Homo sapiens: one gene and its partners. The protein of the gene in region 1 purifies or fractionates together with the protein of each later gene. This does not show direct contact. Each region holds a gene or a part of one and is shown in the gene's direction. Other genes may lie near its edges.

Region 1 (5,105 bases):
TTCCATACTTTCATCTAAATCTTTTCATTTGAGCCTGCTCTATGAAACAGGTGGAAGAGGTATTAATCTCTTCACTTTCCCACCCTATTTTGGAATAACCTGAACCTTGGGTATCAAGTGCAGCCCAAGAGTGAGGGCTGGGGGGAGGCAGGGTTCCCACTCCTATCAGTCTAATGCTGGCCTTCTGATTCCGGTTTCCTATCTGCAAACTCACCTCCACCCTGAAGGACCGGTGATGGATACTTGCCCCTCCTACAAGGAAGACACAACCCCTACCTCTAAAGCACAAGCACTTGAGAACACAACCCCATAGCAACTGCCCTATGTAAGCCATTGAGGGACATGTCTTCTGGGCCGACGCATGGTCTGCATGAATGGTGCTCCCCGAAGGAGGCTACTTCCCGCTCTCCTTCTCTGCCCTTTTCATTGTAAGTCATCTTTCCTCAAGAGCATTTTCATGTACTCTTCTCAGCCCCTCCCACCTTCTACCTATGTGGAGTTTACAGTGTCTGGCACTGACTGTGTTGCTAAAGAGGCCACAGAGGCAGCCAAGTGTAACCTGCTGGCAGAAAAGGTGAGTGGGCCGGGACCTTGGGGTGTTACCACTCGGACAGAGCTGTTTGTGGAACAGAACATCCTTGGATAGTTTGTATCTTGGGGCTGCAGACAGAGAATAACAGTGCAAATCCCCTCTCCCTGTGGATCACGGCAAGCCTTCTTTTAGGGTGTCACCTCATCCCTTTAAGAGCTGTCATCAAATCATCTCACCCACTGGAAGCACATGAAGTTAGGAGAAAGAGAGAGGCTATTTGCTAATGAAGCCAAGTCACGCCCACCCACTGGGAATGTGAAGTGCACATTTTCTAGACATATAACTCTGATACAAAAGCTTTCAAGTCCTTGAGCCAATAATGTACACTTCTAGGATTTTAGTCTAAAGAAGTCATCAGTGGCCAGGCATGATGGCTCATGCCTGTAATTCCAGCACTTTGGGAGGCCAAGACGGGTGGATCGGGAGGTCAGGAGATCGAGACCATCCTGGCTAACATGGTGAAACCCCGTCTCTACTAAAAATACAAAAAAATTAGCCAGGCTTGGTGGTGAGCGCCTGTAGTCCCAGCTACTCGGGAGGCTGAGGCAGGAGAATGGTGTGAACCCAGGAGGCAGATGTTGCAGTAAACTAAGATCGTGCCACTGCACTCCAGCCTGGGCAACAGAACGAGACTCTGTCTCAAGAAAAAAAGAAAAAGAAAAAGAATTCATCAGTGACATTTGACAGAATATATCTATAAAAATGATTTATTATGGATATAAAGAGACCAAAAAAGAGAGATCTGTATGTCCAACAGGAAGGTGTCATTGAATAATCCATGCACATCAGTAAATAGAAAATTGTGCAGACACTAAAAATTGTGTTTTCAAGGAATAATGAATGATATGAGAAAATGCTATTATGGCAAGTGAAAACACACAGGATACAACATCGTATAGTCACAATGATCTCAATTTTTAAATCATATTTAATAGTATTTTAAAATAAGAAAGAAATGCATCAATGTTAACAGTCCTTCTTTCTAGGCCACCACCAGAAAGGGATTATGGGTAATCTCTCTCACTCTCAAAGTATTTCTGTATTTCCATGTTATATATAGAATCATATACCTCCCACAAGCAGAAACTATAACTTTAAGAAAAATGGTTTTTCAAACTAATTTAAGGTTGGCGCGTCAATGAAATTGGGGGGGATCCATTTTTGAAATTAGTTAAAATAAATCCTCTTTCTCTGTGGGCAGCAATATGGCTTTTGTAAGGCAACACTCAGTGAGAAGCTTGGTGGGGCAGAGGTTGCAGTGACCTGCATGGTGTTCCAAACACAGGTAACAGCTCCGTGAATATTCTTGCCTACACCTTCAGAATACAATGACCCCTTCACATTTATGCAGTGCAGTAGTGATGACAGGACATTTGCTCTCCTGTGCTTCTGAATCTCACAGTATGAAATAACACTGGGGTATGCGGAATCATCAACAAATGGAAGGATATTTTAGCTATGCCTTTCCCTCCCACGAACTAGTGACTACAGGGAAGAACCATCTTACTGTGTAGTTGACAAAGCCACCTTTTTATTTGTGGGAGGTGGGAGTGGTTTTCTGAGTTGCAGAGACCAGGTGGCCAGATCTACCTGTTAGCTCCCAGTGGCTGCAGCTTCAGATGACAAAGAGGGTGGCACTGCTGGGCAAGGGTGAGCCATAGGTGGGGTGCTTTTACTCATTGGACATATGCGTGTAAGTCCACCATCACAAAGACAATCCTAGTGAGGCCGGGGCCAACATAGGCCAGTCACCCCTCCTTGTAACCTTGATGACAATCCCTTGTACTTGGGTAGGTCCTTTCTTGCTAGACTCTTTGCAAATAAAAATGTATAATGTGAGGAAATTGGGTGCCAGTGCCACCTGGGCCTGTGGGTTGTCTTGCCTGGGAGGAGGAAGCAAACTAACTGAAGGAAATGGTCCTTTTTCCAGCCCGTGAGCTCACAGCCCCAACCAGAAGGTGCCAATGAAGCAGTCCCCACACCCGTGGTGGACCCAGATGCACCTCCGTCCCCTCCACTTGGCGCACCTGGACTCCCTCCAGCTGGCTCACCCCCAGACTCCCATGTGTTACTGGCAGCTCCTCCAGGACACCAGTTGCACCGGGCGCACTACGACCTGCGCCACACCTTCATGGGTGTGGTCTCATTGGGGTCACCCTCAGGAGAAGTGTCGCACCCCCGGAAAACACGCACAGTGGTGCAGCCTAGTGTTGGTGCTGCTGCTGGGCCAGTGGTTCCTCCATGTCCGGGGAGGATCAGACACTTCAAGGTCTAGGCTAGACATGGCAGAGATGAGGAGGTTTGGCACAGAAAACATAGCCACCATTTTGTCCAAGCCTGGGCATGGGTGGGGGGCCTTGTCTGCTGGCCACGCAAGTGTCACATGCGATCTACATTAATATCAAGTCTTGACTCCCTACTTCCCGTCATTCCTCACAGGACAGAAGCAGAGTGGGTGGTGGTTATGTTTGACAGAAGGCATTAGGTTGACAACTTGTCATGATTTTGACGGTAAGCCACCATGATTGTGTTCTCTGCCTCTGGTTGACCTTACAAAAACCATTGGAACTGTGACTTTGAAAGGTGCTCTTGCTAAGCTTATATGTGCCTGTTAATGAAAGTGCCTGAAAGACCTTCCTTAATAAAGAAGGTTCTAAGCTGAATGTGGTCATGCTTATTGCGACTTCATCCCAGCTCCCCTCACATGCATAGCCTTTTACCCCAACAAACACAGTGTCCCTAATCAAAATCAAAGTGAAAAGAGAACCAAAAGAGAACAAAAACCTGCTGTATTGCCAGATACAGGAAAAAGTGAGACTAGGATCTTTCCACAACCCATAAGATGTGACCATTTCTTTTTTTTTTTTTTTCTGAGACGGAGTCTTACTCTGTCACCCAGGCTGGAGCGCAGTGGCATGATCTTGGCTCACTGCAAGCTCCACCTCCCAAATTCAAATGATTCCCCTGCCTCAGCCCCCTGAGTAGCTGGGACTACAGGTGCGTGCCACCACACCCAGCTAATTTTTTTTATTTTAGTGGAGACAGGGTTTCACCATGTTGGCCAGGATGGTCTTGATCTCCTCAACTCATGATCCACCCACCTCGGCCTCCCAAAGTGCTGGGATTACAGGCGTGAGCCACCGCACCTGGCCAAGATATGACCATTTCTTTATGAGAAAATAATTCTTCTCATTTTATAAGAGAGAGAAAATATTGCTAAAGGTGGGCCAAGCTCCTGAACTTTGTACAGAATAAACTATCCATTGATTTTCTCCAGTACCGAGGTAAGGAGGGATTGGTAATTAAAACAAGATCCTCACTTTATATCTGTTGTTAATTATGTTTAAGATATACGTTGAGTGTACTGTATACACTTCATTTTATAACACAAGATTGGTCTTCCTAGCCAATCTATTTTAAGGACCCAAGTTAAAGCTGTGACTTGTAGTATCATTAGATAAAGGATGCCTGGACAGGTGAATCCCGTGGACATTTGTAGACACCGTCCAAGTGCTCAGATAGCATATGTGAATAAACCCTCCCCATTTTAGCATGGTCCCTGGGCAATTTCAATTTTTGTCCATCAGCATTAAGTTTTTCCGATCTACCTCAGTGATGGGCCCTTTCAGATGGAATTTTAGAGGGCAGGACTGACACCCAGTTGAGTGACTTCACTTTAAACCAAGGAGAATGAATCAAGTGTTGACACTCACCTTATCACTTGTGCCTAGAGGTTTTGCCAATATTCCAGTAACCAAAAGGAAAGGCCAGAAAGGTAAGAAAACCACTAGGTGTCACGGAAGCCAGAGAAGAAGCTATGGGCAGCTGTGCTAAATGCTGTAGAAAGAGCAGTAAGGACGACTGACTCTGAGGTCATGGTGACCACTGGCAGATGCAGTTGCTCTAGGGGCATCCTGGTTGTCAAGAGTTTACTGGTGTTGTTGCTGTAGGGAGACTGGAGAGTGGGCTGTAGCTGGGCAAGAGTAGCCACAGGATAGAAAGTCACTAGAGCTTTCTAGAGAAAAGATTAACATGAGTTGGTCTAAGGTGGTGGGCAGTGGACATGATAAAAAGAGGTTATAATTTGGAGGTAGAACTCCCAAGACCTGCTGATGAATTTGATATGGGAGTGAGAAAGACGTGAAGGATGATGATTCCTGGATTTGTGGCTTTGTGAACTGGATAGATGTGTGTGTGTGTGTGGGGGGGGGGCATTTACTGAGGCAGTGAATTCTAGTTTGTTTCATTTGCATTACCTCAGTTTCCCTCCTCTCCAACTTAAAATTCGTGCAGATGATTTTTCTATGTCTATTTTTCTGTGTCTGGCTAATGCATGCCTTGATCTCATGTCTCTCAAAGAAGCAGTGAAGTCACATAGACCTGCAAAACCTGAGCCAAGCTGCTTCACCTTTCACTTCTTTCTGCCCACATTATACAACCAGACATAGATAACAGCTGATGTACTGGTGTTGGGAGGATTAAATGAGATGCTACAAATTTATGTATGACACCT
Region 2 (4,612 bases), on another chromosome or scaffold:
TTTTTTTTTTGAGACAGAGTCTCGCTCTTTTGCCCAGGCTGGAGTGCCGTGGTGTGATCTCGGCTCACTGCAAGCTCTGCTTCCTGGGTTCACACCATCCTCCTGCCTCAGCCTCCCTAGTAGCTGGGACTACAGGCGCCTGCCACCACGCCCAGCCAATTTTATTTTTGTATTTTTAGTAGAGATGGGGTTTCACAGTGTTAGCCAGGATGGTCTAGATCACCTGACCTCATGATCCACCCACCTTGGCCTCCCAAAGTGCTAGGATTATAGGCGTGAGCCACCACTCCCGGCCATTTTTTCCTTCTTTTTTGTTGTGATGGTCTTGGACTTTTTCAAATTTTGTGAATTGGGGAGGGGATAAAAGGTGTCATAATAGGCCTTCTAATTCCTGCACCTGTTCTTTTTGCTTATTCTAGTCTGTGTATTCTTCTCATCTTCTTGTTCCTCTTCATTTTCTTTTGCTGCTGCTTCTATTTCATGTTTCTATTCTTGTTTCTCCTCCTCTTTTTGTTTTCTTTATGCCAAGCAATGGCCTTAACAAACAACAAGCCAAAATTGTCACTGTGTTGTATTTTTAAAATAACTGGTCCTTTACTATGTTTTAGGGATGAGGAAAAAAATCAGTTGTATAATTAGTTACTTGAATAGCTATGCTTTCACGATTGTGTTAAACCACTTATGCCTAGTGTTCCATTATTGGAATGGTAAGCATGAGGGAGTTAATTACATCCTACTGCTCAAGGTCATTAGAAGGTTTGATTTTTCACTCGTGCAAAAATTCAAAAAATTGCAGCCTCTGGCATAAATGGGCTAATGCGTTGTAAGTAGTTATTCAGAGAATCAAAAAATGAAGCATCACATAAAAATATTGGTGGCAAACAGCCATTTCATCTCTCTCACATATTTGGAGCTATGCAGGAGTCACGGGGTAAGTTCTAATTTATGAGATTATTAAGTGAACTGTATTGCCTTCATTTTCTCTGCCACCATTTCCTTTGTTTTCTTTCTTTTTTTTTTTTTTTTTTTTTGAGATGGAGTTTTGCTCTTGTTGCCCAGGCTGGAGTGCAATGGGGCGATCTCGGCTCACTGCAACCTCCGCTTCCTGGGTTCAAGCAAGTCTCCTGCCTCAGCCTCCTGAGTAACTGGGATTGCAGGCATGTGCCACCATGCCCAGCTAACTTTGTGTTTTTAATAGAGATGGGTTTTCTCTATGTTGGTCAGGCTGGTCTTGAACTCCCGACTTCAAGTGATCCACCTGTCTCAGCTTCCCAAAGTGCTGGGATTGGAGGTGTGAGCCACCACGCCTGGCTCTCTGCCACCATTTTCAAGAGTATTGTCATCTGCCTGAGCAAACCTGGTTCATCACCACCTCTTTGCAAGAGAAAAAGGAAGTCGGGAGAATTGTGTGTAATTTTTTTTTTTTTTGAGATGAAGTCTCGCTCTTGTCCCCCAGGCTGTAGTACGATGGCCCGATCTTGGCTCACTGCAACCCCTGCCTCCTGGGTGAAAGCAGTTCTCCTGCCTTGGCCCCCTGAGTAGCTGGGATTATAGGTGCCTGCCACCACGCCCGGCTACTTTTTGTATTTTTAGTAGAGATGGGGTTTCACCCTGTTGGCCAGGCTGGCCTAGAACACCTGACCTCAGGTGATCCACCCACCTCGGTCAGCTGTGTGTATTTTAAGGCAAAGATTCACAACCAAAAACAAGGCTTTATTAACTTTTGTATCTAAGAACCTGCAGTGTCGAGCCCTCTTTTATTCCTAGTATTACTACTTTAGGTGTGAACTTTTTATCTTTATTTTACTGATTCCTCTAGAAGTTTATGCATTTTCTTGACTGCTTTAAAGACAATCTATATTGTATCATTTTTCAAGCCCGTAGAAATGTGTAAGGCCTATAATTTGAACACTTGTTATTTTTAAGGTTATGAGCATGTAATATACCGTTGATACATGGAAGAATATGTATAAATACCACTAGATAGGTTATATTGAAGAGATAATATCTAAATTTTTGTCCAGAGTTGATGGGGTGCAGTTTTGTAGGTGTGTTTCTCAATACATTGTGTCCATGTTTTAAAGCATATAGAAATTTGAATACTGTTTAACCTCATATAGTCCTTGTTTATAGGTTTAATATTTCTAAAGACTAAAGACGTCACAGCTCCCTTTAAGATTCAGTAATACTAATAAAATTTGAGATATACAGGGTTAGAGTCCAACAAATTCAAAGGAAAATTGTTGAATTATATAGCCGTAGAGCAGGAATGAAACCCAGGTTCTAAGTTCCAAGGGGGCCATGAGCTACCATACAGGTGCATCAGTGACTGGGCATAGAGGTGGCAAAATTATTTAAGAGAGTGAGCTGTGGATCCTAATTATGTGAACATGAATTTTTGAACTGCATGGTGCCTCAGTTTATCCATCATTACAGTGGGGACAGTAGTAAGTTTTTCTTTTTCTGCTCAGTTGTCTGAATTATTACCCCAGTCTCTCTTGTTGCCACTCTTGATGCCCACATGAGAGGATCTAAGGTAATTTCTGACAACCTGGGACTCCTTAAGGAAAAACAGAAGGTTCCACAAACCCCATTTTAGGAGAAACCTCTGTTTTCCTCATGGAACCCCAAGAACTTTAAGCAGACAGGTCCCTCTCAAAAATCTAAGGCTCTGCTCTGTTTTGCCTTGCGTTGTCTGACCTTTTTGGTTTGGATGGGCATCAGAAATTAGTAGGGGAGAGAGATCTAAAGAAAATTGTGGATATGAAGATGTATTTATTGTAAGAAATGTTATGAAGGAAAGAAATGTTATATGAGAGAGGATCTTATATGGCAAATTGTTGTCCTAAAGTAGAATGACTAATTACAAAAGAGGGAAATACAGGACAGGTCAGATAAATTTAATCATGTTGTAGATAGTCTGTGGAAGTTGTGTTATGATTCATAAAGTGGGAAAGAAAAACTGAACAACTGCTAGATCTTTTCTTGTCTAGAAGTGTTGTGTATGTGATGTATATATAATGGCTCGGCTTAAAAGAAAATGAAAGCTCTTAAATATTTTGTAAGAAAAATAGAAGCTCTAATGCCTTTTATTTCATGTGACTTCAGTAATCTTTGGGAAATAAAGATGGTGTTAAAGTCAGTGGTAAAATAAAAATATCTTCAAAATTTATCCATTTGGTCTAACTTAAGTCAGAGGTTAAGTTTTAGAAGTGCTTTAATGTCATAAATTGATGCTTTGACTTTGGAAAATAGTTTTGTTTACCTGGTTTGGAGCCGTTAGATTTCTAGGTAAGGTCTCCGGACAGGTGGAGTTAGCCATGTCTCCTAGCTATGCTGGAAGGAGTCAGATTTTATCTGCAGTTCTGTCTTGTATCCTAGACTCTGCACCTGGTATGCAATTAAAACTTACTGCTGCTGCTAATCTCTGGGTTCCATTTAAAATCCTTCCATCACATGAATACTATCCCCTGTACTAAATTTTTCCACAATTAAATACTTAGAATCATTTTTGCTGACTTGACCCAACCATTAGTGATATATTTTAAAAATGCTTATAATGTGTCACAATATATTTAGCAAATGTAGGGAATGACATTTTTACTTTCTTCAGCATTTACATAGCATTTATGTAGCAATGCTATCTCAAGTATTTTTAATCATTTAAATGTTAGATAATAGATATGTTTTTTATTCCTTTTTTCTATGTAAATAAATATAATTATGAGATATTTAGTAAATAGTATCAATTGCATATGTCACTTACAGAATATACAATGAAATTAGGATTATTTTTATACACTACATCATATTTACTTGTTGGCTTTCCAATAACTTAGAAATAGTATTCTGGATTAACTGTGTGACTCATGAGAGAGGGAGTTTGTGCAATTATAGTCTTTACAAATTTTTACTAGATTTTTCAAGACTTATGCTAGAACTTTGAGAACAAGGTAATAAATAAGCATATCTGTTAATATCACCTTTGGTCAACTCTTGGCTAGACCCAATGATAATGTAGGAATTAACATAATTTTTCTACTAAAGGTGTTGGATTTGTTCCGAGAGACCACAGTTCAAAGTCATTGACAAAGAAAGTTTAAAAATTGTTAGATTAAAACCTTTTAGTGTGTTTGAAATTGTTTTGTAGAAAAATATCCTGGTTTGCATTGATAGGTTTTTTTTTAAATAACAACTAGACCAAGAGAAAGGGAGAGTAGTGATAAATGTCCATGTTTTCGAGTTGAAAAGTAACAATCAGTGTATTACAACAGATGGATTTGATGTCAAATTACAAATGCTGAGAACGTTATATGTAACTGACTTGCCAGAGTAATTATACAAGGCAAAGAAAGGAAAGGCATCTAAATAGGAAGGGAAGGGGTGAGATTGTCTGTGTTTTAGACTCCACAAAAAACCCATTACAGCTGATAAACACTATATTCAATAAAGTTGAGAGTTACAAAATTAACATTGGCTTCTATACACCAATGACAAACTGTTATCTGAAAAATAAGGTAATTCCATTTATAATAGCAACAAAACAAATATATAAGTAAATCAAAGAGCAAGGAGTAATTTTAATGAAGGATGTGAACGATTTGTATACTGA
Region 3 (4,306 bases), on another chromosome or scaffold:
GTGACCTTGGAAAGGAGAGGCCTGGCCATGCTGGGGCACCAAGGTGTGGGTGGAGCTGCAGGCTGGCCATGCACCCCAGGCTCCAGGCTCGGACAGGCCTGGGCCAGCACCCACCTGCTGTGTGACCTAAGCTGGTAGCTCAGTCTCTCTGGGTCTTGGCTTGTCTTCGTCTGCCTCAGGATCACATTTGAATGGCACCTGGCACTGGCCACACTTGGGTTCCATCCTGGCTTTGCCACTTCCCAGCTGTGTGACCGAAGCAGGTTACTTCACTGCTTGGTGTCACAGTTTCCCCATTTGCAAAGAGGGATAATAATATGTGCAACCTTGTTACTCAGCAGTTACTGAGAGGACAGGTTAAGAACAGGGCCTGGCCCACACCTGATGCTATCTAAGTATTTCCCCGTGTTATGGTATCTGCTCGATGAACGGCCACTTGTAGGGCCACTAGGCCTATGCATTGTTGAGTGGGAGGGCCCGTGTCCCATCTCCCCCATGGCTCCAGGCCTCTCTGAGGAGAGCTGAAGGAGGTGGACTGACTAGTCCCCGCACCTCCCCGCCACTGGCTTTCCGGGAGACAGGAGGCAGGGTCCTCAGTGCCATACTACTGAGGCTCAGCGGCCAAGCTCTGGCTGGAGCCACGGTGAGGAAAGGATTAGAAACCCAGATCCCTTGAGCCCTGCCAAGTCCTCACTCCCTGGGAGGTGCTGACAGGAGGCTTGAGGCCAGGCAGGAGCAGCCCATCTGGCCCATCTTCTGCCACCACCCCCAACCCCACCGCACCGCACCCTTCCCCTCCACGCTTGCCATGTTTTCCTCAGCAGGACAGATATTTAATGGTGACTTTGTGGACCGAGGCTCCTTCTCTGTAGAAGTGATCCTCACCCTTTTCGGCTTCAAGCTCCTGTACCCAGATCACTTTCACCTCCTTCGAGGTGAGCTGGGAAGTGACAAGGTTTGGGTTCATTGTGGGGTCCTGAGTGGGGCACTCACTCTGCAAGGATAATAGTTGCAGCTGTATTTATTTTGTGGACTCGGAGATCATGCACAGGGCGACCTTTTAAGATTGAGTATGTAGTGCACTGCACAAAAGCATCACACCAAAGGACGCGTTTACATCATAGATAGTGTAGAAATGGATGTTTACTCTGACCATTTTTCAGCAGATGGCAAACAAGGGTGTGAGGATGGGCCCCTTATTCTAATTTGCACAAGGGCATGAAACAGGCTCCTGGGTGGCCCTAAATCTGGCACTAAAGCTGAGTGACTGAGTGAACAGACCAGGGCTCGAGGGTGGGAGTAAGGAGACTGTTGACGAGGCAGTTGTGCCCCCTCAGATTCAGGCTTGGTGTCAGATTTGGGTTCTCTTGATTGAAGTAGAGCCCGGAGCTGAGTGTGCTGGTTCACACCTGTAATCCCAGCACTTTGGAAGGCCCAGGTAGGAGGATCACTTCAGCCCAGGAGTTTGAGACCAGCCTGGGCAACACAGTGAGACTTTGTCTCCAGTAAACATTTTTTAAAAAGGCCAGGCGCAGTGGCTCATGCCTGTAATCCCAGCATTTTGGGAGGCCAAGGCAGGTGGATCATCTGAGGTCAAGAGTTCGAAACCAGCCTGTCCAATGTGGTGAAACCCCGTCTCTACTAAAAATACAAAAATTAGCCGGGCATGGTGGTACACGCCTGTAATCCCAGCTGCCTGGGAGGCTGAGGCAGGAGAATCGCTTGAACCCAGGAGGCACATGTTGCAATGAGCCGAGATTGCGCCACTGCACTCCAGCCTAGTCGATAGAGTGAGACTCAGTCTAAAAAAAAAAAAAAAAGCCAGGCATGGTGGCACCGTGCACCCGTAGTCCCAGCTTCTTGGGTGGCCAAAGTGGAAGGATTGCTTGAGCCCAGGAGTGTAAGGCTGCAGTGAGCCATGATCACACCGCTGCACTCCAGCGTGGGCAACAGAGCAAGACCCTGTCTCTTTGAAAAAAAAAAAAAAAGTAAGAAACTTGGAAGTAGAGCCCAGAGTATTTGCTGGAGGAACAGACACAGGTGTGAGACAAAGAGGGAACGAAAGGGGCCCTCTAGGGTTTTGGCCGGAGTATCTGGAGGGCTATGGCTGCCAGTGACGAAGACGGGAACATGTAGAGCAGGGTGTGGCCAGGAGCTGAGGAGCTCCCCTTTGGATGTGGCTGAGACTCAGGAGACATGGGATGTGGGTGGGGTTCCAAGGGGTGTTGAAAATGTAGGTTTCTTGGTGTCCAGATGAGATTAGACAAGAGGAGCTCACTGGGATGTGAGGGCCACACAGGGGAGGCCCTGCCCATGGCGGGGCCGGGGTGAGTTGGGAGGTGAGTGATAGGCTGGGGCGAAGCCTGCATGCCCGTGTCCCTGGGCTCACAGGGTTCACGCAGCAGTGTCCAGCACAGGGTCAAAGCTCAGGAAGCCCGACTGTGGGCCTCGTTGCAGGAGGCAACAAGTGCTCAGGCCGAGAAGTCAGACAAGCAGAGTCTGAGCAGATGCGAGACTGGGCAGCCTTCTCCTTGCCCCCAAGCTCTGGAAGGGAAGAAGGAGGCCGGGTGCTTGTGTCTGAGACAGAAGGATGGAGCTCAGGGTGGGGTGGGCTGGGGCACATGTTCTGTAGATGGGCCTACTTTTTGGTTTTGAGACGGTCTTGCTTTGCTCTGTTGCCCAGGCTGGAGTGCAGTAGCATGAGCATAGCTCACTGCAGCCTCTGCTTCGTGGGCTCAAGTGATCCTCTGGCCTCAGCCTCCCAAGTAGCTGGCACTATAGGCACGCACCACCATGCCCAGCTAATTTTTAAAATTGTTTTATAGAGAGGTCTCAGTATATTGCCCAGGCTGGTCTCAAATTGCTGGGCTCAAGCAGTTCTGCCTTGGCTTCCCAAAGTGCTGGAATTATAGGCGTGAGCCATGGTGCTTAGCCATGGACCTACTTTTTGTCAAGATTCCCCCCTTGGTACCTCCAGTCTGGAAGGCACCGCAGTGGCAAGTGCGAGGCCCATGGGGGCAAGGGACGCATGCACAGTTCTGGGCCTTGAGGGTGCCAGGCTGGAGGACACTGATGTACCTGGAGGCTGAGCTTTCTCTTCTGTCCCCGTGTTGGCCAGGCAACCACGAGACAGACAACATGAACCAGATCTACGGTTTCGAGGGTGAGGTGAAGGCCAAGTACACAGCCCAGATGTACGAGCTCTTTAGCGAGGTGTTCGAGTGGCTCCCGTTGGCCCAGTGCATCAACGGCAAAGTGCTGGTGAGGACGGCGCGAGCCCTGAGTGTGGGTTCCCCACCCAGCCACACCTGGGCAGATGTGCTGGTGAAGGAAGTTGGGGCCTGTGGGTGGGTGGCACCTTCCCTCACAGCGGCATCCCCCATCTCCCCAGATCATGCACGGAGGCCTGTTCAGTGAAGACGGTGTCACCCTGGATGACATCCGGAAAATTGAGCGGAATCGACAACCCCCAGATTCAGGTGAGCAGCGCGGGGCCAGGTGTCTCCAGCAGAAAGGGGCAGCCTGGGCTGAGCTCTCCCCTGCAACCCAGCCCTGCCTCGGAGGATGGGCTTTGTGCCCTTGGCAAGAAACAGCGGGTCTGAGCCTCAGTTTCCTCACCTGCGACTTGGGCCAGTGCACCTCCTTCATGGGGCTGTGATGGCAAGCACGGTCGTGACCATGGTGCGGGGTGAAGGCACGGTGACCGCCGAGCACACCTGTCCTTATTTATTTGTGAGTTCAGCTGTGGAACCCTGGAAGGAGGGGAGGTCTTGGGGCTCCTGTGCTAGTGACGGGCACACTTCAGAGAGTTCACCCACAGGTGCACACGCACGTGCACACTGTGAGTGCTGCAGAGGACATGGATTGGGTGGGCTGGTGCTGGGTGCTCAGGAAGGCCTCTCCAGGGAGGCGAGGTTTGAGCTGACACTGCGGGAAGCAGAGGCATCTGCCGTGCACAGAGCCTGGCGAGCATATTCCAGGCTTGAGGAGGGGTCCTAAGGCAGGGAGAAGTTGGCGAGTGGGCAGGGCTGTGCTTTGAGGGCTGACATTGGACATGGGGTTCACTGGGCCCAAATCCTATGGCGCTTTACAGGCCCCAGTGAGGAACTTTGTTCCTAGGGCAGTGCGGAGCCACCAAAGGCTTTGAGTGGGAGAGGGGCCTGATCTGAATAGTGACATTGAAAGCTCTATCTGGCTTCGGGGCCACAGGGGATTGAATGGGGTCTGGAGGGCAGATCAGCAGAGAGGGTGGGGGTGGCTCAGAATCACAGTCACCTGTCCTGAATGTCCATGTCCATGCTGGATG

What was found. Proteins that work in one complex are often made in the same cells at the same time.
Region 2: the proteins of AHSG (region 1) and POTEF purify together in Homo sapiens (affinity purification with mass spectrometry; 3 studies listed by BioGRID and IntAct, with this or other methods). This does not show direct contact.
Region 3: the proteins of AHSG (region 1) and PPP5C fractionate together in Homo sapiens (co-fractionation; one large-scale study listed by BioGRID). This does not show direct contact.

Annotation. Positions count from the first base shown.
Region 1 is NC_000003.12:186,618,064-186,623,168, forward strand, and holds the end of AHSG (alpha-2-HS-glycoprotein isoform 2 preproprotein), read left to right. Parts: intron 1-472; coding exon 473-574; intron 575-1,793; coding exon 1,794-1,877; intron 1,878-2,522; coding exon 2,523-2,867; 3' UTR 2,868-3,255; downstream 3,256-5,105. UniProt on the Homo sapiens protein: Promotes endocytosis, possesses opsonic properties and influences the mineral phase of bone. Shows affinity for calcium and barium ions.
Region 2 is NC_000002.12:130,122,723-130,127,334, reverse strand, and holds part of POTEF (POTE ankyrin domain family member F), read left to right. Parts: intron 1-4,612.
Region 3 is NC_000019.10:46,383,975-46,388,280, forward strand, and holds part of PPP5C (serine/threonine-protein phosphatase 5), read left to right. Parts: intron 1-829; coding exon 830-935; intron 936-3,118; coding exon 3,119-3,261; intron 3,262-3,391; coding exon 3,392-3,479; intron 3,480-4,306. UniProt on the Homo sapiens protein: Serine/threonine-protein phosphatase that dephosphorylates a myriad of proteins involved in different signaling pathways including the kinases CSNK1E, ASK1/MAP3K5, PRKDC and RAF1, the nuclear receptors NR3C1, PPARG, ESR1 and ESR2, SMAD proteins and TAU/MAPT.